Linked DNA regions of Homo sapiens: all the other regions are linked to region 1. Evidence: fine-mapped expression QTL. A gene starts in region 1. Each other region holds a variant in brackets. All regions are shown on one strand. Distances are from middle to middle. Region 1 holds the start of PCMTD2 (protein-L-isoaspartate (D-aspartate) O-methyltransferase domain containing 2). Region 2 overlaps PCMTD2 (protein-L-isoaspartate (D-aspartate) O-methyltransferase domain containing 2). Region 3 has its middle 48 kb from the start of PCMTD2.

Region 1 (8,187 bases):
TAATTACCATCGATTTAGAGAAGGAGTGACAAGGAAGAATGAGTGATAAAATTAAATCGAGAAATCACAGTGGGGTCAAGATTTACACAACTGTCTTTATCCTCCGCTGTCCAGAGGGCAGGTGCGCAGTACAGGCTGTGGCAGCACAGGAAGAGGGGACAGAGAACAGGAGAGGTCCCTCTGGAGAATCCGGGGCCCATGAGATGCATGCAGGCCTTCCTCCCTCATCCCTCTATCCACCACCCAGTGATGTGTCAATGTCAGATAACTACTGGGAAGGCTGCGGTCTCGACCCAGGCAGGCCATTAGCAGACTACATTTTCTGTCAAAGGAGATGCCTCCTTCCCTGAGACAGATGAGTTTTCAGACTCTCCTTCCACACTTACCTAGAATGAGGCCCACCATGGAGCTGAGATACCCAGTGCCACTGCCCAGGTTCAGAAACGAGAGTCCAGGCTGCAGATCTAGGGCTTCCATCACCTCCGAGTAGATGCACGGGGCTGAGAGGTGAATGTTTCCATGCTTCCATGCCAAGTCTTTATAAGCATTTTCTTTAAATTCTTCAAGATAATAGTCTGCACGATCGATAGCTCTGAAAGCCTGCTCTACCAGCTCAGTCCGGATATACTGTGCTTCTTTCAAATTATCTATCAGCTCATCATTGTCTTCACCAGCACTCACAGCACCGCCCATGTTCAAGATTACACTTAGGCAATACTATAATTAAAAATGTTTAAAAAGAGCGATTTATGTTAAAGGTAAGAGCAGAACAATAGAAGTTCTAAACAGATACCAATTTGAAATTCTGAATTCTGAAAATAATAGATTATCTTTTGTCAACACCCACCTCATCCCCTGCCCCACCCAGAGATGCCAGATTTAGAAGGAAAAAAAATCCCAGTTCAATTGGAAATTAAGGTAAACAACAATACTAAAAGTTATTTGACGTTTATTTGAAATTCAAATTTAGGCCGGGTGCGGTGGGTCATGACTGTAATCCCAGCACTTTGGGAGGCCGAGGCAGTTGGATCACCTGAGGTCAGGAGTTCAAGAACAGCCTGGCCAACATGGTGAAACCCCGTCTCTACTAAAAAATACAAAAATTAGCCAGGCATGCTGGTGGATGCCTGTAATCCCAGCTACTGGCGAGGCTGAGGGAGAAGAATCACTTGAACCCGGGAGGCAGAGGTTGCAGTGATCAGAGCTCGTACCACTGCACTCCAGCTTGCGGAACAGAGCAAGACTCTGTCTCAAAAAAAAAAAAAAAAAAAAGAGAAAAGAAAAAAAACTTTAGGTGGTGTCCTATATTACATCTGGGAATTCTATATCCCCAACATACACAAAAGTACCCACCCAAGTCAAGCAATCCATCTGACCTGTTGATTTGGATATTTTGATGTTCAAATTTTAGACAAAAACAGCAAGAAAACACTCTTCCCAAATTGAACGTACTGTGACAAATACCTTTTTCTAACAAATGCAAAATCAGCTTCCTGGCTAAAGTTTAAGTGTAGGAGGGGCTGCTACCAGAACTTCCTACAGCCCCTCCTCAATTGCATGATACGCAGCTTTCCCAGCTCTTTAAAAATAACAACTACTTGTCTTACCTTCTCCCAACCTGCCTTCAAGAAGAAAAAGCACAGCATGTGTCACCTCTGAGCCTAACTATTAAAATACAGGGTAGCTTCAGCTAATTCACAAGAAAACACTTTTTCACGCGGAGAAGTCTTACTCTTCTTAAAACTACAAAAATATCCTTTCCAATTTTATACTTACCCCATGTAACTTTTTCAAAGTAACTGCTTTAACTTCATATAAAATGGTAATGCTTTACAAAACACCAGATACAAATTGTCAGGGAAAAAGACCACCAGACCTCATGAAGACATTTTCTGAAATGAACACAACCTTTTTAACAACTTGTTATAATTATGATGAAGTTTATACTTGCTTTCCTCCTCACATTCCTCTGGATTTCTAACAGTAGAATGAGGATCGTAAAGAAATACTGTGGGGTGACAAGGGGCCTGGGGCGGATTTCATACACACCCACGTACACAACTGGAGACAGCGGTGGGAGGTTTTCCCAGGAATGAAAATAATCACATAGTTTCTTACAAGTGAACAAAAAGTGTGAAGGGTATAGCTTAACACAAATTCTCTTCTATTTTTATGGTGGAACACTCAATCTTCACACTCAAGATTTTAGAGCTGAATATTAGGTTTTGCAAATCAATAGGATGGTCCAGTCATTAAATTTTCACACCCTTTTTGAATTTTTTGAATTGTTTCGGAGCCCTTGTTAGATTACGGTCCACAGCCAGCTGACTTAGACTTAGATGGAATTAAGTCCTAATGAGGTCAACTTTAATCCTGGATAAGCCACTCAGTTCTGAGGCTGCACCCTAGCCTACCACAGTCATCTTAAAATTTGGGTCAGTGGTTAAAAGCGGAATCATGTGTTTGGATGCTTAAGGGTCTATTTAGGAAAAGAGCTGGAAAATCGCATACCGTCCTCAGTCAAAGCCACCTCTTCACCCAGAAGCCTGTATATAATGTTCCAACATTGTCTCAATGCCACATCTCTAGAAGGTAACCTCAAACTGTATGTTGGATAGGTTTCATTTTCCACTAAGTAACTATCACTTATTTTGAACTCTGCCTTAATTTGAAAGTTCAGACAGCTTTTTAGTAAAAACAAGCACCTTTTTCCAGGTACCACCTGCCAGTCATGGCCTCATTTACACTTCACAACATTAAGAAGCAAATTGGAGCTGGCCGGTTAATTTGTTCATGATCACATAGCCAGTTTGTGAGGAGGGGGCTGCATTCAAACCCAGGACTGTATGGCAAAAGGCCTGTGTTTTTAATACCACACCAGTGCAGCTTTTAAAAATACTCAAGACAGCAACGTTCTTTACCACACAACACACCGGTAACCTTTTGACGATGGGGTAACCCTATCTATACCTATTGCCACTGGTAGGATCCATGTGAATAGCTGTGGGGTCTGATATTTATTACCATCTTTGTCTGGTAATCTAACACTCCCTCGCACTGAAAACCATCGATATGATCAGTCATGATGTCACCAAAAACACCGACAACAAAGCTCTTCGCCAAACCAAATCCTATCATTTTCACCCAGATTCTACAATCTGGTCAAATCCAATTTTTCAAAGTAAAAGTGTAGAATCATTTTTAGAACGCTGCACTCGATGATACTGTGCACATTGTCTGCTGTAATTAATCCTTAATATAATTCACTACTCTGTGGTAACTAGCAACAGTCCATAACAACCTGGCTGCTCCTTACAATGCGAACTGCCAGGGCACATGAAGAACACTTGCTGAGTGGCGACAGGCATGGGAAGGTCTCAGAACTGACACCTGAGTTGTGATTGTGGCTGTGTCAACACAAGCATGAAGCTATGGTAGTGGGGTTTTGGGAGGCGACATACGGAAGATCACATTCCAACTTGGATGTCACTTCTTTAGGGTAATATGGACAAAGTAATTCATTGTGGAAGATGAGTGGGGAAAAGGACCCAAAGCCACATCTCCTTTGGGCAGAATGATCAAACAAACACACAAACAGATTTCTCACCTTGAAAACCAGAACTCTTACAAGCAATGCAAAGGGACTTTTTTCAAATACAGATGGTCTCCGACTTCGGATGGTTCGACTTCAGGTTTAACGATGTGTTTACTGGGATGCGACCCCACCGTAAGCCGGGGAGCACCTATACTTGAAAGGCTGTCACATGTACACTATTAATGGGCCTAACAAAAGCCAGACCAGTGGTACATGTTGGAGACAATGCCTACTAAATACACAGAGAAGCTTTCTAACAAATGAAGTTGCAATGAATGAAAGGAGCTCTTGATAAGCCCAGCCAAGTTCCACTGGAGGTACGAGCTGGGGTGGCGCAGGGAGCAAGGCCCTGGATCGGTCACCTCTGAGGTCTCCTCTCATCACCTGAGTGTAGGGCTCTATTTCCCCCAAGCGTGGCCACAACAATTTCTGAGTTGCTTATAGGCACCTCAACTTCACTCATTCTTGAATGACAGTCTATCAAACGCCCAGATAGGAGCTGTTTAGCCATTCCCTTGAGAAGAAAAATGAAAACTATTCTAGTCACACGAGTAAAGAGGGGGTGGATAAAGAGGGCGTGGATATTTAGGTGACTTATTTGAGGTGCAACGCTGGAGCAAACATTCATTTAGGAGACACGTCCCTCTCACAAAAACAAAACAAAGGCCCGAAGCTCAGGCAAGTTCTCCTTCCTCCAACTAACAAAGATCTCTTTCCATGCGTGAATTGAAGTCCCAGTGCTCTGCTCCAATTCTTACTATCTCCAAGGCACGGGGCGGGGGGGCGCAATTATTTTTTTAAAAAATCCTGTCATCTTCTGAAAGGGTCCAAGGCAGACTTTGTTCTAAACCTTAGCTCTTGGCTTGCCTTGGAACTGCAAACGTTTCCCACTTGGGAAGTCAAAGACAAGCTGCAGGTCTGGACTAACCAGACCCAAGAGTGTGAGTGAGCAACGGGCACCGGGAGAGACCGACGGGAAACCGCGAGCGCTCGGAGAGAGAAACGCGGGACGCCCTGGAGGCCGCTGGGGGGAGGTGAGGGTGCCCGAGGTGGGGAGGAGCGACGCCCCCAGAGGAGAGCTCCGGGCGCAGGGGTGCCGGGGGTGGGGAAGGAGGAGGGAAGGGGCCGAGGGGACACACCACCCGCTCGCCGCAGGCCGGACCGAGGGGCGGCGGCGGCGGCGGCGGCTCTACCTCCAGGCTCGGCCGGCCGACGGGTTCGGACCGCCTGGGCTGCCACCTGCAGCTCCTCGGGCGCGTCCCTCGTGTGTCCGCGGCCGAGCAGCGCCGCTCCAACCTCGGCCGCCGTAAACATCCGCCGCCGCCGCCGCCGCCGCCGCCTCTGCGCCTGCGCACAACGGCCTGACTGCGCATGCGCCGCGGGCCTGGCACTTAAAGGGGTGATGGCGGCGCAGGGCGGGCCCCACTCCCCTGGGCTGCCTGCGTCCGCCCGCCCCGCTGAGAGCTCGCTGAGCCCTAGGCCGGGTCCGAGTCTCGCGGGCGCGCCGTCCGCGCAGTGCTCAGCCAGGACGGACCCCGCACGGGCTGCCTCAGAAGCCCTCCCTAAGGGTCACCTGAGACGCCTTTGCTGACCCACGGCTGGGGGCGTTCCGCATCTCCAGGGTGCCCTGCGGCTGCTGACTCGGGGCCGGCGCTGCCCTCGGGCGGCCTCCCAGCACCAAGCACAGCCGCCCTGGGACCCCCGCCCTGCCACGCGGACGGCCACCCGGCCCTGGGGCCCTCCTACCCAGCCGGCTTTGTGAAATCAGCTGTGAAAGGAAGATATCCTGGGCCCCCAAGATCACTAAGGAAAACTCCAGCAGGAAACTGCTTAGGGCAGGCCTGCTTCCCATTCCATTCAAAGTCACTCCTCTGCTCACTTAGATAGATACATATCTGATTTGCCTCCTTTGAAAAGGCAAATGAGAAACTCAAAAGAATTTAACCGTTGGTGTCTCACCTATCTGTGGCCTGGACGCTCCCTCCCCGCTTGGAGTCTTCCTGCCTTTGCTTCAAGTTGTCCCGTCTTTCCAGACCGAACCGATGTGCTTCTTACATGTATCGATGGATGTATCCTGTCTCCCTAAATGTATAAAACCAAGCTGTGCCCCGACCACCTTGGGCACATGTCAGGACTTCCTGAGGCTGTGTCACGGGCGCGTCCTCACCCTTGGCAAAATAAACTTTGTAAATTAACTGAGACCTGTCTCCCATTTTCTGGGTTCACACAGCCCATTGCCCAAACTTCGCGTGGGGCTTTGCAGATAGGCTGTAGCTGCAGAACCCTTTCTTCAAGCACAGCCATGCAAGCCGCCTCATATGTGCAAGTGCCAGCGTCGCTGGGGCGGACGAGTGGGCCTGGGTCTCCGGTTCCCGCCTCCCTCCTAACTCGGCATTCCTCCCCAGACCCTGGAGCTCCACTTAGGAGCAGAGTTTGAAAACCAAAGGCCGGTGCCTTCACCACGTTATGTGGTCCCAGGGAGACCTCACTTCTCTTGTTGATCCATGGTCCTGGATCCACGGACCTGAGGTGGCCCACCACCTCATGACCTTCATGGGGCTCTCAGTGTCCTTCCACCTGAGAGCTTGTGGTTATTTGTGACTGTTTCAAATTACAGAAGCCCTGGAGTCATCCTTGACTCTCTTCCTACTGCCAGGGGACACGTCCTCCATACATCCCTCCTTGCCCTGTCCCAGCTCCCCTCACCTCTCCCCACCCCTCCCACCATTCCCCTGGGCTCTGGCGAGTGGTCCTCCTAAAACAGGTGATCACATCACTGCTGTCTTCAGACACTCCCTTTGTTCCTGGACCCAACTGAGGGTCGGGCTACTACTTCTCCTGGCCCAATAACAAGATGCAAATGAGCTGGAGAGTAAGAGAGGTTTTATTTCTGTAACCGGTTACAAGGAGAAGGCCTGGAAATTATCACCATACCAACTCAAAATTACAAAGTTTTCCAAAGCTCGTATACCTTCTAAGCTGTATGTCTACATGTAAGTGTGCATTCATCTACAGACATAAGTGATTAACTTCTTTTAATCTATGACTAAGGTTGAGTCCTGAAGACCCTCTTCTGGAGCCTCAGTAAGTTTACTTAATCTAAATGGGTCTAGGTGCTGGGGTGATTACCCTTATCTTGTCTCCTGCTAAATCATAATGATATGGGGAATTCCTTTAGACCCCCATAAACTTGTTTGTGGAGGCCTGGGGAGTTTCTTCAGATCCCTAATACAACTTGTTTAATCCTAAAAAGGGTCCTGTTAAGAGTTCCTTCGTTATCTTGTCATGCTTCAAGGCCCAGGAAGAGCCTAGGCAAAACTCTTGGTGGGCTCTTTGTTACATTCCAACCTTTGTATAAGGGCATTGGCTCAATCAGCTTTTAATGTTTAACCTGGCTACTCAGTCCGTGCTGGGACAGCTGTAATGGAGGCCTGCGTTAGTGAGACCCGGCCTGCCACAACTTCAGACTCTTGCTTGGTTTTCCAAGGTGTCTCCACCATTCCCCTCCACATCAGCTTCCACTACCATCAGCATTCATAACCCTTCACAGGGTATATACTGAGCACTCTACATGGGTTATTTCCATGAAATAGGTACTAGTATGACCTCCAAGAAGAAAAGTGGACCGTGACATCAGGAGCTGGCCTGGCACTCAGATCGAGGCCATGGGGTCTCCTGTTGGACATAAATAATTTTGTAGAGGAGCACCATCATGATCCAAGGCCACGTCATAATTTTGTCTAAGCACAAACAAAAACAGGGTAACTGTGCCACCCACAAAATCTAAGACATATCATCTCCAAGTTAGTAACAATGACCCCCGCTCCTCTACCAGCTACAGCTGAGCCTCCCTCTGCCCTGGCCTCCTCACAGATAACATCTACTGAGATGCCCAGAGAACCACCCTTTCCCCCCATCCACTCCCCCAATTCCTGACAGCATCTAATCCATGAAAAAAATCACCCAACTCAAGCCCATAACCTTTAGTAACTTTTCCCGACACCTCTTACTGAGATGCCTTGCAGTTCTCCATGATCTGCATCCCTCTCGCTGCAATGAGTGATAATCCCAACTCATTCAATTACAGGCAGGTTCCTGGCAGCCTTTGGCTTGACGACACTGATACCTCCATTTTACAGATGAGGGAACTGAAACTGCAAGAGGTTCGCTGGCTTCTTGTACTTACCAGCTAGTAGTAAGCACAGGAAGGTGGATGGGAATCCAACTGCTGCTGTCACCCTCCTCCAGGCTTCTCCCACACCCAGCCACGGGGAGCTTTCTGAGTATGTCTTCAGTGTCCCCTCGCCTATCCCCTTGCATCTCTCCACTCATCTGTGTTGTATCTGCAGGAGGAGCCTCGGACGGAGGGAAGGTCATGCAAGGGCCTGAGGCAGGGGTGCGGCTGGGTATCTGGGGAGCAAGTAGCTAGAGCCACATGTGGGAGGTTGTGTTGTTGTCTTCGAAATACACTATTCTTACTATGGTAAAGTATACAAAACATTTATCATTTGAACCATTTTTAAGTGTACATGAAGTACATTTACACTATTGTGCAACCTCACTACTATCCAGCTCCACATTTTTTTCATCAT
Region 2 (8,187 bases), 23 kb before region 1:
GATGATTATTTTGAAAAAAAATGCTAACAAAGGAAGTTCCAAAACCAGAGTAGAAGTTACCCTTCTGTAAGGAAAATTTACATCTATAAAGGAAATCCCCATTTAAAAGCTACCTCTCTCTCGGCACCAAGAAGAGAAGGATAACTAAATCACTAGAGTCTTATCAATGGAGGACGCATGGACTTCAGTCTGCATAACAAACGTTACTCTTGTCTAATGTGGTTTTGCTGGTTAACTCCCCACTACTGTGCCTCAAATCTTCAAGTTGAAGATAGTATTTACACTTGAATTGAAAACCACCTGCTGGAGATTTACTCATTTTTCCCTGAGTATCGCCCATGTATCCATAAGGTATACATGTTTTTAAACTTTTCTACATTTTTCTCATTTTAATCTGTCATTTGTTACAGAGGGTCCAATCTAAGAATTCTGAAAAGATAGAGAGAAAATTATTTTTCCTCACCTATTACAAGTTGGGCAGTTTTTTCCAAAGCTAAATAAGTCTCTCCTTACAATCCAAAAACGACATTCCTAAGTATTTTGACAACCACTTTGATGTGATTTCCAAACAAAAGCTACCATGCAATTATGTACAGAAGCCCTATTCATAATGACCAAAGGAAAAAAAGGAATCAGAAAGTCTTACAATAGATGACTGTGTGGGAACCCCCTCAGACATCAAGAGTTATTATAAAGATTATTTAAATGAAAACATTTGAGATACCGAAGATGAAGGAAGAAATCTTACCAGAACTTACTTTATCCAATTAAAGCACAGCTCCCAGAAAATACAGCTGCCATTAACCCCATCCACGGAGTTCCTTGCAAATTCAGCTGCCGTTAACCCCATCCATGGAGCGCCCAGAAAATACAGCTGCCGTTAACCCCATCCACGAAGTTTCTTGCAAATTCAGCTGCCATGAAGATAGACTGCTCATTCCCATTAGCATTGATAAATGAAAATGAAATCCTAAGCTCCCAGCTGACTGAACAGACCCACTCTTGGCTGAGGGGACCCCAGAGTAACTTTCAAAACTGAGTTCTCAGCTTGGCCAGAATGGGATGATGGGAGTCAGGTACACCCCATTATACCCCCTGCTTTGCAAACCATGATGAGGCTTTCTTCCCTAAGGATTTAACAGAAACCAGCCCTTTCAAAATCACCACTGATATCAACCTCTCCTTTCTTGCCTGATAAGAGACCACCCATGACGGAGAGGTTCTGGACAGCACACAGAGGATGCACAGAGCGAGTTTTCATGTCCTCTGCTTCACCTTTTAATGTCAGAGGGCTGAAAACTCCACCCTGGGATGATGCTAACACTGCTATTTTTTGTACATGGGACCCATGAAGAACCAAGGAACTCAGTTGTGCATGCACGCATTTCCCCTTTCATAAATATTCATGACTCCGCCTAGAGCTTATTAAAGATGTGTATTTGGCCATGCCACTCAGCATAAATTACTGTTTCCTTCACCTCTTCCTTGAAGTGTCTTGTTTCTAGTTTCTGGCTGGAGGCTATGCTTCCCAGCCTATCAGAAGGACTACCCTGCAGGCTGCAACCCTTTACAGGAAATAAATACCTCACTGGGTGCAGTGCCTATAATCCCAGCACTTTGGGAGGCCGAGGCAGGTGGATCACCTGAGGTCAGGCGTTCAAGACCAGACTGGCCAACATGGTGAAACCTCATCTCTACTAAAAAAACAAAAATTAGCCAGGCATAGTGGTGAGGGTCTGTAATCCCAGCTAATCGAGAGGCTGATGCAGGAGAATCACTTGAACCTGGGAGGTGGAGGTTGCAGTGAGCCAAGATTACGCCATTGCACTCCAGCCTGGGCAAGAAGAGTGAAACTCCGTCTCAAAAAAATAAAAATAAACAAAAATATAGAAATCTCTCCTTTCCATATTTATGAACCTCATCATTCTTTAGTTGACAGCATTAAAAAGTTCAAAAAGACCTTCCATACTCTCCCACAGAAGCCCTAGAAATTGTCATTTTGTTAATCATTTTGGATGCTTGAGAACTGAGAATCTGACAGTGGCCTAGTATCCGGAATATACAAAGAACTCTTACAACTCAAGAACAAAAAGACAAACAACCCCCACCCACCTCCCATGCAAAATGGGCAGAAGAATTAAAGACACTTTTCTCCAAAGAAGATACAGAAATAACACATGAAAAGATATTCAACATCAGTAACCATTAGGGAAATGAAATGCAAATCTAAACTACAAAAAGATACCACTTCATACCTATTAGAATGGTTATTACAAAAAAAGAAAGAAACAGAAACTAACATGCAGTGTCAGGAAGTAGAGAAACGTGAACATTGCTGATGGGCATGTCATATGGTGCAGACACTGTGGGAAATAGTTTGGTGGTTCTGCAAAACGCTAAACAGAATTACCATAGAACCCAGCAACTTCATTCCTAGATATATATACATAAAAGAATGGAAAAGAGGTATTCAAACAAAAACTTGTATACACATGTTTATAACGGTGTTATTCACAATTTTAAAAAGTTGGAAACAGGCCGGGTGCGGTGGCTCATGCCTGTAATCCCAGCACTTTGGGAGGCAGAGGCGGGCGGACCACCTGAGGTCAGGAGTTCAAGACCAGCCTGGCCAACATGGTGAAACCCCATCTCTACAAAAGTACCAAAATTAGCCGGGAGTGGTGGCAGGTGCCTGTAATCCCAGCTACTCGGGAGGCTGAGGCGGGAGAATCACCTGAACCTGGGAGGCAGAGGTTGCAGTGAGCCGAGGGCACGCCATTGCACTCCAGCCTAGGTGACAAGAGCAAAACTCCATCTCAAAAACAACAACAACAACAACAAAACACAGCCCAAATGTCCACCAACAAATGAACAGGAAAGTCAAATATGGTCTATTTCTATAACAGCATAATATTCGGCTGTGAAAAGGGTTGAGGCACTGACATTACAATGTGGACGAACCTCAAAACATGCTAAAAGCAAGAAGCTGAACACAAAAGGTCACATACTTCATGATTCCATTCATGGAGAATATCCAGAATACGTAAATCTACAGAGACAGAAAGCAGATTAGTGGTCGCCGGGGGTCGGAGGGAGGGCACATTGGGTAGCAGCTGCTTAATAGGTAGGGGGCTTCCTTTTGGGGTTTTGGAACTAAGAGGTGATGGTTGCACAATATTTTGCAGGTTCACAATGTCACTGAATTTTACATCTTAAAACAGTTAATTTTATATTATGTGGATTTTACCTGAATAAAAAAACAAAATCCCACCCCAGCATTCCCTCACCAGGGTGAGCCCTCTTCCCACATGCTCCCTTAGCCTGGGGTTCAAGGCCCTCCACAGCCCAGCGCTGTCTAGGCCTGGCCAACCACATTCTGGACACATGTCTGCCAGCTCCTAAACCCATGGCCGTTTCCTCATTCCAGATCCAGGTCACCTTCTCTCGCCTTCACAGACACCCAGGGATCAGCAACACCTCAGGGCTCACAGGGCCCTTTGAACCTTGTCCTACTGTAATCCAGACCTTGACACATGGTCTCCAAGGGTTGTCCCATCTCAATAAAAGGAAATCAGAGTTTTCTGAGCACCAACGTGTGCTGGTGTCTTGCTCAGGTGAACTCCCTGCTATCTATAGCTAGTCCCCTGTGCAGAGCGGAGGGCCAGGCTCAGGTGGCTGAGTGACTCACCTGACCTGCAATCCCACAGCCTCCAGTGGCTTCACACTCAGGTTCCAGCCCAGAGCCAGGGCTCCAGGTGCCACCCAGGGAAAGTTTGTGAGTCAGATGAACGTGTGTCCAGCCCACACAGGAGAGGCATTGAAGCTGTGCGGTCACTTTTGTGATCATGAGGTGGTCCAGGCCCCATGAGAAACCTGATGAATCAGGCAGACCCTGTTTATGTACACCAACCCAAGGCTCCCCAGAGGCCAGCTCCAGGAAGTGGATTCACACTAGTATTTGATACTTAGTTAGAGCTGAGGATGCCTGAACCTTGCTTCCGTCCACACCCTCCCAATCTCTGGATGCTAAAGATACATTCTCAGGCCTGCCTCAACCCTGCTGACCAGGATCTGGTCTGAGGCTCCCCACAAAACCTCTGAGACTCCCCACAAACCTCAGGGGCTCGAAAGGCACACAGGGTGGGGAGGATGCTTATCGGAGCCAGGCTTTTGCCTTTGGGGGGCCTCGGACTGCAAGTACTTTTTTTTTTTTTTTTTGCCCAGGCCACAGGGAGCATGGGAACTCCCAGGAGAGGTGTTCCCTGGAGCCTGGGGTCCAGAGAGGGACCCAGCCTCTGTTTTACCCTGCCTTCAAAACTTCAGCACCCCCAACCCCATAATAGTCTCATCCCAGCCCTCACTGGGCAGAGGATCCCAGCACCAGCCCCATCCCCAGCAGTCAGGCCCTCCCGTGATCTGCCTGGGGCACCCTGGAAGGGGCCATGGTGCCTTTGGGGCCAGCAGGAATGTGGAGATCACTGGCAGAGGCAGGGACAAGGTTATAGGTTGAGTTCCATCCCTAACAATTCATATGTTGAAGCCCTAACACCCAGTACCTACAAGTATGGCATTATATGGAAATAGGGTCTTTGCAAATGATGAAGTTCGGAAGTCATTAGGGCCATGCTTCATTCATGATGATTATGTCCTTATCAAAAGGGGAATGTGGACACAGAAACACGCACAGGGAAGAAGGTTTGTGAAGACTGGAGCTTTGCTGTCACAAGCAAAGAAACTACCAGAAGCTGGAGAAAGGCCCTGGAACAGATGCCTCCCTAGGGCCGGCCCTGCCAACACCCTCATTCCAGACTCTGGACTTCAGAACTTCGAGACAACAGATCTCTGTGGACCAGGAGG[G/T]ATGGGGTGGAGGTGGCCTCCCTGAAGATGTTCCCTGAGTCTCCACCCCACTGTACCCAGAGCTGACCCTGAGCCTCCATCCTGCTGTCACTGGAGCCTGGAAAACCCAGGGCTGCCCAAACCCCGTGCCTCACATCTCCCCGGGCTCCTCCTCCAGCTATCAACACTTTGGAACAGCCGTTATGTCCCTTTAATCTCTAGGAAAGGTGCCTCAGGAAGGCACAGGAAGAGGCACAAGATGGTGTCTCAACTGTGTCCACTGGGCCCAGGCTGGCCCTTTAAGGAGGTGAGGGCAGGCCGTGGGATCACATCCCTCTTCTCAGAGAGGCCAGGGATAAGGCCAGAAAGGGGACAGGAGGAAGTGTTGGGGCGGAGGGGTGGCAGTGCTGTGGGAAGAGGATGCTGAGGGCAGTGGCCCCTCCCCACAGGTGCCAAGTGGAGTGGGTGAGGAGGAGCCTTCAGCCTCCATCTGGACCAGACCTCTAACCATTGCATAGGTGCCACTTCTTGGGAGGTCCAGTCCCAGCCAAGGGTCAGCTCCAGAGATTTTATTTTCCCCAAAATGGACATGATGCAGCTGGCTAAGTCATGGTTCTAGAACTTTCAGGAGTGACCCTGCTACCTGATAGGAGTGAGCAACACCCCCTGGAGGTCCTCATGTAGCCCGTGCCTCTGCCTGTGACCAGCTACCACCCAAGCACCTCCTCACACAGTCTCTGGGCCCTGCTGGTCACAGGAAAGGCTACCGGCAAGGGCTGGGATGGCCCAGGCTCTGCGTGTTTCCTGGGATGGCAGAGGGGTGGCCCCCACCACCTTAGCGGATCAAGGCACAGTAGTTACTGCTGCTGCCCTCTGAGTCTGGGGGAGCTGGCCAGGTGGGGGATATGGGGCATTAAGACAGCCCTGATCTCTGACACAGAACAACAGGCCTGGGGCAGGGCTCATGCTGTTCTCCCTCTTGACCATCAGAACAACCACCTAACCACCCAGTGCCCAGCTGCCCAGGGCCCTCCTAGATCAAAGGGATGCCCTGCCCGTGTGGTCTATGACTCCACCCCTGCTCTAACCACCCAGTGCCCAGCTGCCCAGAGCCCTCCTAGATCAAAGGGACGTCCTGCCCGTGTGGTCTGACTCCACCCCTGCTCTAACCACCCAGTGCCCAGCTGCCCAGGGCCCTCCTAGGTCAAAGGGACGTCCTGCCCGTGTGGTCTATGACTCCACCCCTGCTCTAACCACCCAGTGCCCAGCTGCCCAGGGCCCTCCTAGGTCAAAGGGACGTCCTGCCCGTGTGGTCTATGACTCTATCCCCGCTTTCTGCTATTTCCTCTTTCATGCAGAACCTCAAGTGCTAATTTGGACATTCTGGTTCCAACATAGTGGAGCAATGGGTTACATCTCTGTCTCCAAGAGAAAGAGAAGGGAAAAGACATAAGCACAAGGTCCACAGTTGTTCAGAGCATCTCTGTCTCCAAGAGAAAGAGAAGGGAAAGACATAAGCACAAGGTCCACAGTTGTTCAGAGTCAGGTTGCAAGTGGAGCCCCTGGTGACGGGCATCTGACAGAGAGCTGGGGCACAGCAGGGTTAGGGTTAGGATGAGGTTTGCAAGGAGCTCGAATGGTGGGAGAGCATCCTGATGCCCAGCAGCAGCAGGGAACCAGAAGGAAGGGGTTTCTGCAGACGGATCAAGGAGGCTCACTGATTCCCAGAGACCATTACCCTTCATATGTCCAGGCCCCTGGCTTGAAGACCAGCTCTCCTCATCCCACTATGAGGTTGGCCAATGACTGTCCCTACTCCAGCCTGGTTTGTAATTACAGACAGGCAAACGTGAGTCTCCAACAACAGTTAAAAAAGAAAAAAAAAAAGAGATACAGCAAGAAATGAAAGATCAACATGATCAAACTGATAAATCACCTCTAGAGGAGTAAGTCCCCACATCCCTTCCTCTTTCTGGCCGTTTCCTTCTTTGTTCAAGGAAGGGCCAGAATCCACGTTCCCACCTCCGATGAAGTAAAATTTTTAAAAATTCTAATTAGGATCCTCAGAAAAGTCTATAGTACTGCAACCACAGAAAATAACAGTATATGCAGGTGTGATGATTAGTACTGTGTCAACTTGATTGGCTTGAAGGATGCAAAGTATCATTCCTGGGTGTGTCTGTGTGGCTGTTGCCAAAGGAGATTAACATTTGAGTCAGTGGACTGGGAGAGGCACACCCACCCTCAGTCTGGGTGGGCACCATCTATTCAGCTGCCAGCTCGACTAGGATAAAAGCAGGCAGAGGAACACGGAAGGACTGGACTGGCTGAGTCTTCCGGCCTCTATCTTTCTCCCATGCTTTGCTTCCGGCCCTCGAACACAGGACTCCCAGTTCTTCAGCTTTTGCACTCTTGGATTGACACCAGTGGTTTGAAAGGGGTTCTTGGGCCTTCAGTCACAAACTGAAGGCTGCACTGTCAGCTTCCCTACTTTTGAGGTTTTGGGACTCGGACTGGCTTCCTTGCTTCTCAGGTTGCAGATGCCCTACTGTGGGACTTCACCTTGCGATCCTGTGAGTCAATACTCCTTAATAAACTCCCTTTCATATATATATATCTATCCTATTAGTCCTGTCCCTCTACAGAACCCTGACGAATACAGCAGGAAGGAAAATTCAGAGATCAGTAAAGAGAGCATGAAATTATCTTAAAATATATAACTGCCAAAATAAAAAATTGGAAGGCAGAATGTAAAAAATATCCCAACAAGCACATACAATAAAAGAGAAAACATAAGCTCTTTGGGAGACTGGTCCCAGAATTTCAAGATCTAAATAACATCTGTGCTCTGAACAGATAACTGAGAATGAAAAAAAAATATTTTCTGCCCCTTAGAAAGTTGAATGTGGGAAAATTATGCCAAAAACGTTAACCGCAATCTTCAAGGCCCTATTCTCTTATGTACTTGGAGCCAGCCACTTCTCCATTTGTCCATTCCAATTTCACATTTATTAATGAAAAATAATGCCTTCTCTACATCTATTGTGACTGTCACAGAATCAAGCAGTAATACAAATATTTGCTGAAAGTAAACACATGATGTTAATAAAGAAAAAAGGTTCTTTTCTTAAGATTTTGAAAAGAACATATTCAAGAATTGGAATCCTACACAGGATGCAGAAGCAATGCTAAGGATAAAATATCCTGACTACCTTTATTGACATGATTTGTGTTTACCAGCTCATTAAAATCTATGTTTCAAATTCCCTGGATTTTCCCAAGTTCCAGACTGGTAAAAAGTATTTTTACATACACATTTGATGCTCACATTACAAACTTAATATCTATAAA
Region 3 (8,187 bases), 47 kb before region 1:
CTGCCATGAGCCCCTACAATCTATTTCAACTCAGAAGCTATAGAGTTTGTTTAAAACATGTAACATATTATGCCACCTTTCTTACTGTAAAACATCCCATGGTTTCTCGTAGTATTTATAGTAAAAGTGAAATTTTTATGATGGCTTGAGAAACTTTTCCCATTAGATGCCCAAGTGCTGTTCTGGTCTGATCTTCTCATCTTCCCTTGGGTGATTCTGTGGCAGTCACACTAGCCTCCTTGATGCTCCACAAAAACTCCAGCATGATCCTACTTCAGGATACTTGCCATTGTTACTGCATCTGCCTGGAACCTTTTCTCCCATATAAACATAGAGATTGCTCTTGCCTGTCCTTCAAGTCTATTCTTAAATGTCCCATTCTCTGTGAAGCTTTCCTGCCCACCCTATTTAAATTACAGACTTCACTCCCAATTCCCCATCTACTTTAAGAGTCTTCATTTATCATTCCTTGACAAACTGTAAATATACATGTTCACTTTTTTATCGTCTGTCTCCAAATACTGGAATGTTAAGTTCTGTAATGTCAGATATTTCTGTTTGGTTCACTGGTGTATTCTTAAAGCATGTTACATACTAGGTATACTCAATGAATATTTGTTGAATAAATATCACATTGGGCTTATTCCAGAAATTCAAGCTTGTTTCAATAGTTAGAGCAATCTACAAATGTAATTCATTACATTAACTAATTAAAGGAGCTAAATCACATCACTACCACAATAATGCAGAAAAACACATTTGATACAACTCAATATTCATGTCTGCCTAACAAACATCTCATGATACTAGGAAAAGAGGAAGGGATATATTATTTTCATGTATAAAACACTAACCATTGTAGCATGCCAATATACTCAAAATTCAATGAAATTCCTATCAAAATCTTAGCATTCCTCTTAGTCCTCAACAAAGCATTTCTAAAATGTGTATAGAAGACCAAAGGGCCAAAAGAGTCAACTTCTGAAGAAGTGGAAAAAGAAAGTTGAGGAAATCTTAAAACATGTTATTGAGCTTAAAGTTGCAAAAATAAACTCATGTACCATAATTCATGAGTAGAAAAATAGACTAGTGGAATAACATAAAAATAAAAACAATGCTTACATAAAATGTTGTAACTGATTTGGATGTCATTAGAAATCAGTAAGTAAATAGATGGACAATGTAATGAAAGATGCTAGGCAAATAATGTGGTAGGGAGAATAATGGCCCGCAAAGATGCCCATGCCTAACCCTGGAACCTGTGAATATGTTACACTGAATGCAATAAAGGCTTATCAGATGTGATTAAGGATGCAAACCGAGATGGAGAGATCTTCCTGGGTTATCCAGATGGGCCCAGTCTAATCACATGAGTTCTTAAAAATGGAGAACCTTTCTTAGCTGAGTCCAGAGAGAGATGTGACAATGAAAGAATGGTCAGAGAAATGTGACATTGCCAGCTTTAAAAAGAGAGAGGAGAGGCAATGAGAAAAGGAATGCTGATGTTCTCTAGAAGATAGAAAAGGCCAGGATATGGATTCTACCCTAGCCGCCATAAAGAAACATGCCTGTCGACAACTTGATTTTAGTTCACTAAAATTCATGCCTGATTTCTGACTTGTGTACACTGTAAGATGACAAGTTTGTGTTATTTTAGGTCACTTAGTTTGTAGAAATTTGTTACAGCAGTAATAGAACAAGTGGTTATCCATATGAGGCAAATTAGATTGGATACCTATCTCCAATAGAAATCAATTCAAGGTGAATTCCAGGAAAATACTTAAAACATTTAGATTAAAAATAAATGAGAATTTTTGTTACTTTTGGTAGGTCATAGAACCAAGAAAAACAAACATTAAGGAGGAAAAATGAACATATGACTACATCAAAATATAAAGCTTCTCTATTTGGATGATATCATAAGGTGACAAATCATAAACTGTAATATTTGCAACATATATATGAGTGAATATACATTTAGAATATATATGAACTCCCAAAAATCAACAGGAAAAATAAGACACAGAACAAGCAAAATGCATAAACAAAAGAAGGCAAAACAAAAATAATGACTCATAATTATATGAAAAGAAGCTCATCTTCATAGATGAGCAGATAAATGCAAATTAAAAACACCCTGAGATGCTTTTTACATCCATGAGCCTGATAAAAGTTAGAGTCTAAAAGTAATAATTAACAAAGATGGGAAGTAACAGAAAATCTTGTCCATTACTGGTTAAAGTATAAACTGATACAGCTACTTTATAGAATATTACATTATAGAATAAAGTTGTGAGTATGTATATGCAGTGACTCAGCATCTTCATTGCTAGTATGTACTCAAGAGAAACTTACAGGAGTGGACTAGGAAGTAAATACAAAATGATTACAACATTGTTTGTTATATCAAAAAATAAAAAAGACACCCAATTTTCCAGCAAAAAAAATAAGTAAAAATAAATCCTGGTGTATTCTAACAATGGAATAATATATAGCCATTAAAATAAATCAACTATTACTGTACATATGAATGTAAGTATCAGCAAAACATATTGTTTAGTGAAAAAGTAAGAAGCTGAAGAAGAATATATACAATATGGTTACATTTATATGAAGTCCAAAAACTTGCAAAATAAAGAAATGTATTTAGAAATAGATTCACATGTGAGAAAACTAGAAGAAAATTAATGAAAGGATAAAAGGGATAGCAGTAATTCTGAGTAGTTGAGGGGATTTCAATTGGAAAAAAATAGTATCATATTCTTTAAGTCAGGTAGTGGGTATTAGCATTTGTTTTACCATCGTTCTTTATTCTTATAGCTACACTATATATTTTCAATGTATTTAATGTATTTTTTGCATAATTAAATATGCAATAAAAATGAGAAAACAAAAAAGTAGAAAATGATAAATTACAATAAAGAAATGGAGAAAAATTATAATCTAGTTGAGTAATGGTATATTACATAGCTATTTTCTTAAGTAGATGTATGTACATGATGTATGCACGATTGTACATACATGTTCTTAATTATATATAAATATATATGTACATATTTTTAATATAAAATACTAAACAAAGTACACCAAAATATTAGCTCCTATGTTAGTGAGATAATGTTTTTTTTTTTTGTATTTTAAGTTTTACATAGTAGGTGTATTTATCTGTTTTCATACTGCTATAAAGAACTGCCCAAGACTGGGTAATTTATAAAGGAAAGAAGTTTAATTGGCTCACAGTTCAGCACAGCTTGGGAGGCCTCAGGAAATCTACAATCATGGCGGAAGACAAAGAGGAAGCAAGCCAGCTTCTTCGCAAGGCAGCATGAAGAAGTGCCGAGCAAAGGGGAAAGAATCCCTTATAAAACCATCAAATCTCGTGAGAACTCACTATCACAAGAACAGCACAGGGGAAACTGCCCCCATGATTCAATTACCTCCACCTGGTCTCTCCCTTGACCTGTGGGGATTATGGGGGCTATGGGGATTACAATTCAAGATGAGATTCAGGTGGGGATACAAAGCCTAACCATATCAGTAGGCATGTGTTGAATTTTAAACTCAGAGAAAAATACTAGTGTTTTTATAGGATTCTTACTAAAGAAAAACCAGAAAGTAATAAACCATCTACGCTAAGACATAAAATTCAGTTGTTTAGTTACAAGATAGAATGTGGCCTTGTAAGAAAGCAAATTAACTTCTAACATCCAAAGCCTTAGAGAAGATTCAAGTGACTGACGGATCTTAAACAGAGCTATTATTACAACTCAAACTGCAGTAAAATATCCTCAGCAACATAGATGTGTGTGTTTCACTAGTCAGATCAATACAAATTTAATGAAACTCCATTGGTGGTGTTTTTAATCAGACAATTTCTGAAGATGTCCTGGCTTATTCATAGATGCAAGCCAAATCTCTAGAAGAGTACCATAATAAGAAAAAAAAGAATACAGGCAATTGAGAGCTGTTCCAAAGTTTAGGGAGTTTTTGTAAGGAATTAATAAATAAAAATGTTCTAGAAAGAGAGAAATTAATATGCAGTTCATACTGCCAGAATTGCAGGCAATTTATCAAACTCCCCTAATCCTCCAAAATCGCT[A/T]TTTTTTTTTTTGACACACACTTTACAGTACAGAAGAAAATGTCTCCGGCAATAAATCACAGTTAAAATTACCTAGTCTACAATTAACTACACAGTGATGGTAAATCATTTTCTACCAAAAGAAAGAAATGTCTTGTCTATTCAGGTTCTGCTCTACTTAAAAGTTTTCCTTGTTGGCGAGCAAGTGGTTAGAAAATCATATTTTATACGTACATTCAGCTTAACTATCATTCAGCTCAGGAAGATGACTCAGGGCCTTATCCATACCTTCAAGTTTGCTCTTAGAAAGTAATTGTTTCAGTATCTGTATCAAAAATGGCTTAAGTCTGCAATATGTTTCTGAATGATTAACAAGGTGATAGTTCTTCATTGAATCCTGGATGCTTTATTTTTCTTAATAAGAGGAATTCATATGGATCAGCTAGAAAAAAATTAAGAGGAAAATCACATGGAAAGTTATATATTATATATCTATTATATATATAATATTATATATCTATTATATATAATATATATCTATTATATATATATTATATATTGTATATCTATTACATATATAATATTATATATCTATTATATATTATATATCTATTATATATCATTTCCAAATTCCCCAGCGTTCACATTTGTCAGTGCAAGTAAAGAGCCTTAGTGCTGATGAGGTTTGAGGTATGACCATTTGGCCAGAATTTATGAACTCTACATGTCGCTTGATGTGTGCTTCAGGGTACACTTTTTTTTTTTTTTTTGAGACGGAGTCTTGCTCTGTCGCCCAGGCTGGAGTGCAGCGGTGCGATCTCAGCTCACCGCAAGCTCCGCCTCCCGGGTTCACGCCATTCTCCTGCCTGAGCCTCCCGAGTAGCTGGGACTACAGGCGCCCGCCACTATGCCCTGCTAATTTTTTGTATTTTTAGTACAGACGGGGTTTTATCGTGTTAGCCAGGATGGTCTTGATCTCCTGACCTCGTGATCCACCCGCCTCGGCCTCCCAAAGTGCTGGAATTACAGGTGTGAGCCACCACGCCCGGCCAAGGTACACTTTTAAGCAGAGACACTACTTTGAAGGTCATAAAAATATAATAAGAGATAAGGCTAATTTCCTTTAATAATAATAATAAAATCCTTTAATAAAAATATAAAGGAATAATAATTTTCTTTAATAAAATATAATAAGAGATAAGGCTAATTTCCTTTAATAAAATATAGTAACTACATACCAACAGAATTCCAAAAAAAGAAATGGAGAGGAAGGGAGCATGGGTCATTAATCTTGTCAAAAATATAAAATTATATACGAGGAATTCCTAGAAACTGTTTTCCTTGTCTGCGGCCATTGTGCTGCTGCTACACAACTACCGCAAGCAGCCCTTCACGCCCTCCTCCCAGTACAAAGCTAATTGACTTGTGAGAAATGTTAAGCTTGGAAGAGTCAGCATCGCTGCACTTATTTTTTATTCTACTCTGACATTAGAATAATCCTTGAGTGGGGGAAAGGTTAAAAACCCCCCTGGATAAGTGTTACTAATTAATGATGATTGTTTTAAACAATGTTTGGATAATTTTTCCTTGTCCCTTGACATAAACTTGATAAATAACTGAGAAGTGAGAAGGAGATTAGTGGGTTGATTAAATTCCATTCAGGTACTTCAAGTTAGCTCCAAAAATTTAGCTATTTATAAATTGTCATGCATTGTTAATGTATAAGAGATGTAGATTTCATTTATCTTTGGTGGAGCGAGATGAAGCAGTGAATCATTGAAGACTGAAAGAAAGAAAAAGGTCTTTTCCCTTTTCTTTAAGAAGCATCATTAGTTAAAAACATGTTAGTTGATACCAGAGAACTATATTTAAAGGGACAGCAATAAGCAAATTGATTACTCTGGTGATTATTGGAGTGACATTGCCTTTTAGTTGTACTTTCACAAAAATTCACAATATTTGCCAAAGTCAAGTTATCCATTACACTATTAATTTGTCATTCTTTTGTTTATATAGTCAATATCTCTATCTCAATTGGATCTATCTCAACTGCTTCTAAACAAGCCACCATAGTCTCTCCCATTTCAACAATCTCTTCCAAGTACCATTTCATTTCTTCTTTTCATATTTTTGAAAACTTTTGAAAAACTACCTATTTTCCTCCTCCATTTCTTGTTCATTCCATTCTAGTGGACATGGAATCTGTTCCTCCTCCAAAACGGAATTTGGTAACCCTTAAATTACTAAACCCAAAACAATATGTTGTTTTTATCTTTACCTCTCTGTGGCATTTAATGATAAGACCACTACTTTCTTCTCTTTTACCCTTCTTTCTTGAATTCAGTCAAACAACGTACTTACATTTTTCATCTTATTCTCCATCTTAGAAACCACCTCAGCTTTCTCCATTCAGCCATAAAATTGTGCTTTTCCTCAAAGATTAATCTGCCTCTCCTCTCACTCTATACTATCTCTGTTAGCTAATTTTATTTGCGCACATTGCTTATACTGGGCATTATATACACATATGCATGTGTGTACATGTGCACACACACACTGTATGTGGACATGTATATATATATGTGTGTGTGTATATATATAGTATATATATAAATTACAATAACATAAAGGTGGCATTTTAAATTAGTGGAAATTACCCTGATTTGATCACTACACATTCTATACATGTAAAGAAATATCACTCTGTATCCCAAGAATATGTACAATTATGGTTTGCCAAATGAAAAAGTTCATACATTGAAAAATTTTAGATAAATATCAAACTTTCTCTGAAACTGTAACTGTAAAATGTAAAAAACAGTAATTGCTATATTGCTTATTTTTGAGTAGAATATGAGACATTTCCCTAATCATTATGTGTAATTACAATTACATATATATGTTTATATATTACATACATATATATATATATGTAATTGTAATTACACATAATGATTAGGGAAATGTCTCATATTCTATATATATAGACAGAGAGAAAATATATGAGGGAGAGAAAGAATCTTTCCATCTCCTTTGAGTTCCACGGTGTTGAGAGTCAGGACAACTGCAATTGCTTCATCATGCCTGCTTGCAATTATAGGGCTTTTGAACCATTTGTTCCCTCCTTAGATATCCTCATTTTTTTCAGATTCTTGCTTAGAAGTCACTCCTCCGTGGACCTCCTCTGACATATTAAACATTGCAGTCCATTATAAGCTGCAAGAGGACAGGGATTTTTGCCTGTTTTATTCCCTACTGTATCACCAGGGGCTACAGCAATATCTGACAAACAGTGGGCATGTAATGAATATTTGTTAAGTGAAGTAATAAATTCAATCAAATCACATCACCTGTTTAAGGCACTTCATTGGCTTCACATTGCACTTAGAATAAAGAGAAATTCTTTTTATACAATATAAGTTCCTGCAGAATGCAGACACTTTCTACTTCTCCAGCCTCTTTTCGACTCCTCTCCTACTGGCTTCTGTATTTAAGCCACATTAGACCTTTCTTCAGTTTTTCATATAGACTTTGTCGCATCACACCTCAGAGATTCTGTACATGTTCTTCCTCCTGCCTAGAAAGGGTCGTCCCTCCACTTTCGCCAACTAATCCCTGCTCAACTTTTCATCTCAGCAGGAGGCCCATTCTCTTTGGCAATCCTCTGGCCTCCAGCCCATTTATTATATGCTCACATGTCAACATGTACTTCGTACAGCATGTAACACAATTGCACTTTTATATTTTAACAAATTATATTTCCCATATTGAACTGTAAGTCTCCTGAAAGGTGGAATTTTGTTCTTGCTCATCATCAACTTTTTCAACATCCAGTGCACCATTTAGAACTTAGATGTAGTCAATACAGGTTTGTGGAATGAAAGAGGAAAAGAAAGAATTAATATTCCTTTAAATTAGGATGGCAAAGATCGTATATAGAAAATTGGCTAAGTTGTGGTCCATTCATGTTTGCTCCCAATTAAGGAGCACAGCTATGAAAAGGAAGGCTTCAAATTAATAACCAATAGATTTTTAAAAAAAGAAAACTGGCCGGGTACTGTGGCTTATGTCTGTAATATCAGCATGTTGGGAGGCCAAGGCAGGATTAC

Evidence for each region. PIP is the estimated chance that this variant, and not a neighbour inherited with it, causes the effect.
Region 2: its variant is fine-mapped to the expression of PCMTD2 in whole blood (INTERVAL, PIP above 0.99). The same link has a PIP of 0.9 or more in subcutaneous fat.
Region 3: its variant is fine-mapped to the expression of PCMTD2 in whole blood (INTERVAL, PIP above 0.99).

What each region holds. Positions count from the first base shown.
Region 1 is chr20:64,252,472-64,260,658 of GRCh38, reverse strand. It overlaps PCMTD2 (protein-L-isoaspartate (D-aspartate) O-methyltransferase domain containing 2), which reads right to left and starts at 4,911. Exons shown (of 6, transcript NM_018257.3): 1 at 4,789-4,911; 2 at 387-717. The coding sequence starts at 693.
Region 2 is chr20:64,275,866-64,284,052 of GRCh38, reverse strand. PCMTD2 (protein-L-isoaspartate (D-aspartate) O-methyltransferase domain containing 2) reads right to left here. Exons shown (of 6, transcript NM_018257.3): 6 at 7,827-8,187. It also overlaps the pseudogene IL9RP5. Among named protein-coding and RNA genes, the nearest start is that of PCMTD2, 24 kb to the right of the region's middle. The variant G/T (reference allele first, on the strand shown) is at 4,858.
Region 3 is chr20:64,299,484-64,307,670 of GRCh38, reverse strand. It overlaps the pseudogene SEPTIN14P20. Among named protein-coding and RNA genes, the nearest start is that of PCMTD2, 48 kb to the right of the region's middle. RefSeq lists enhancers at 4,439-4,939, 4,940-5,440. The variant A/T (reference allele first, on the strand shown) is at 4,100.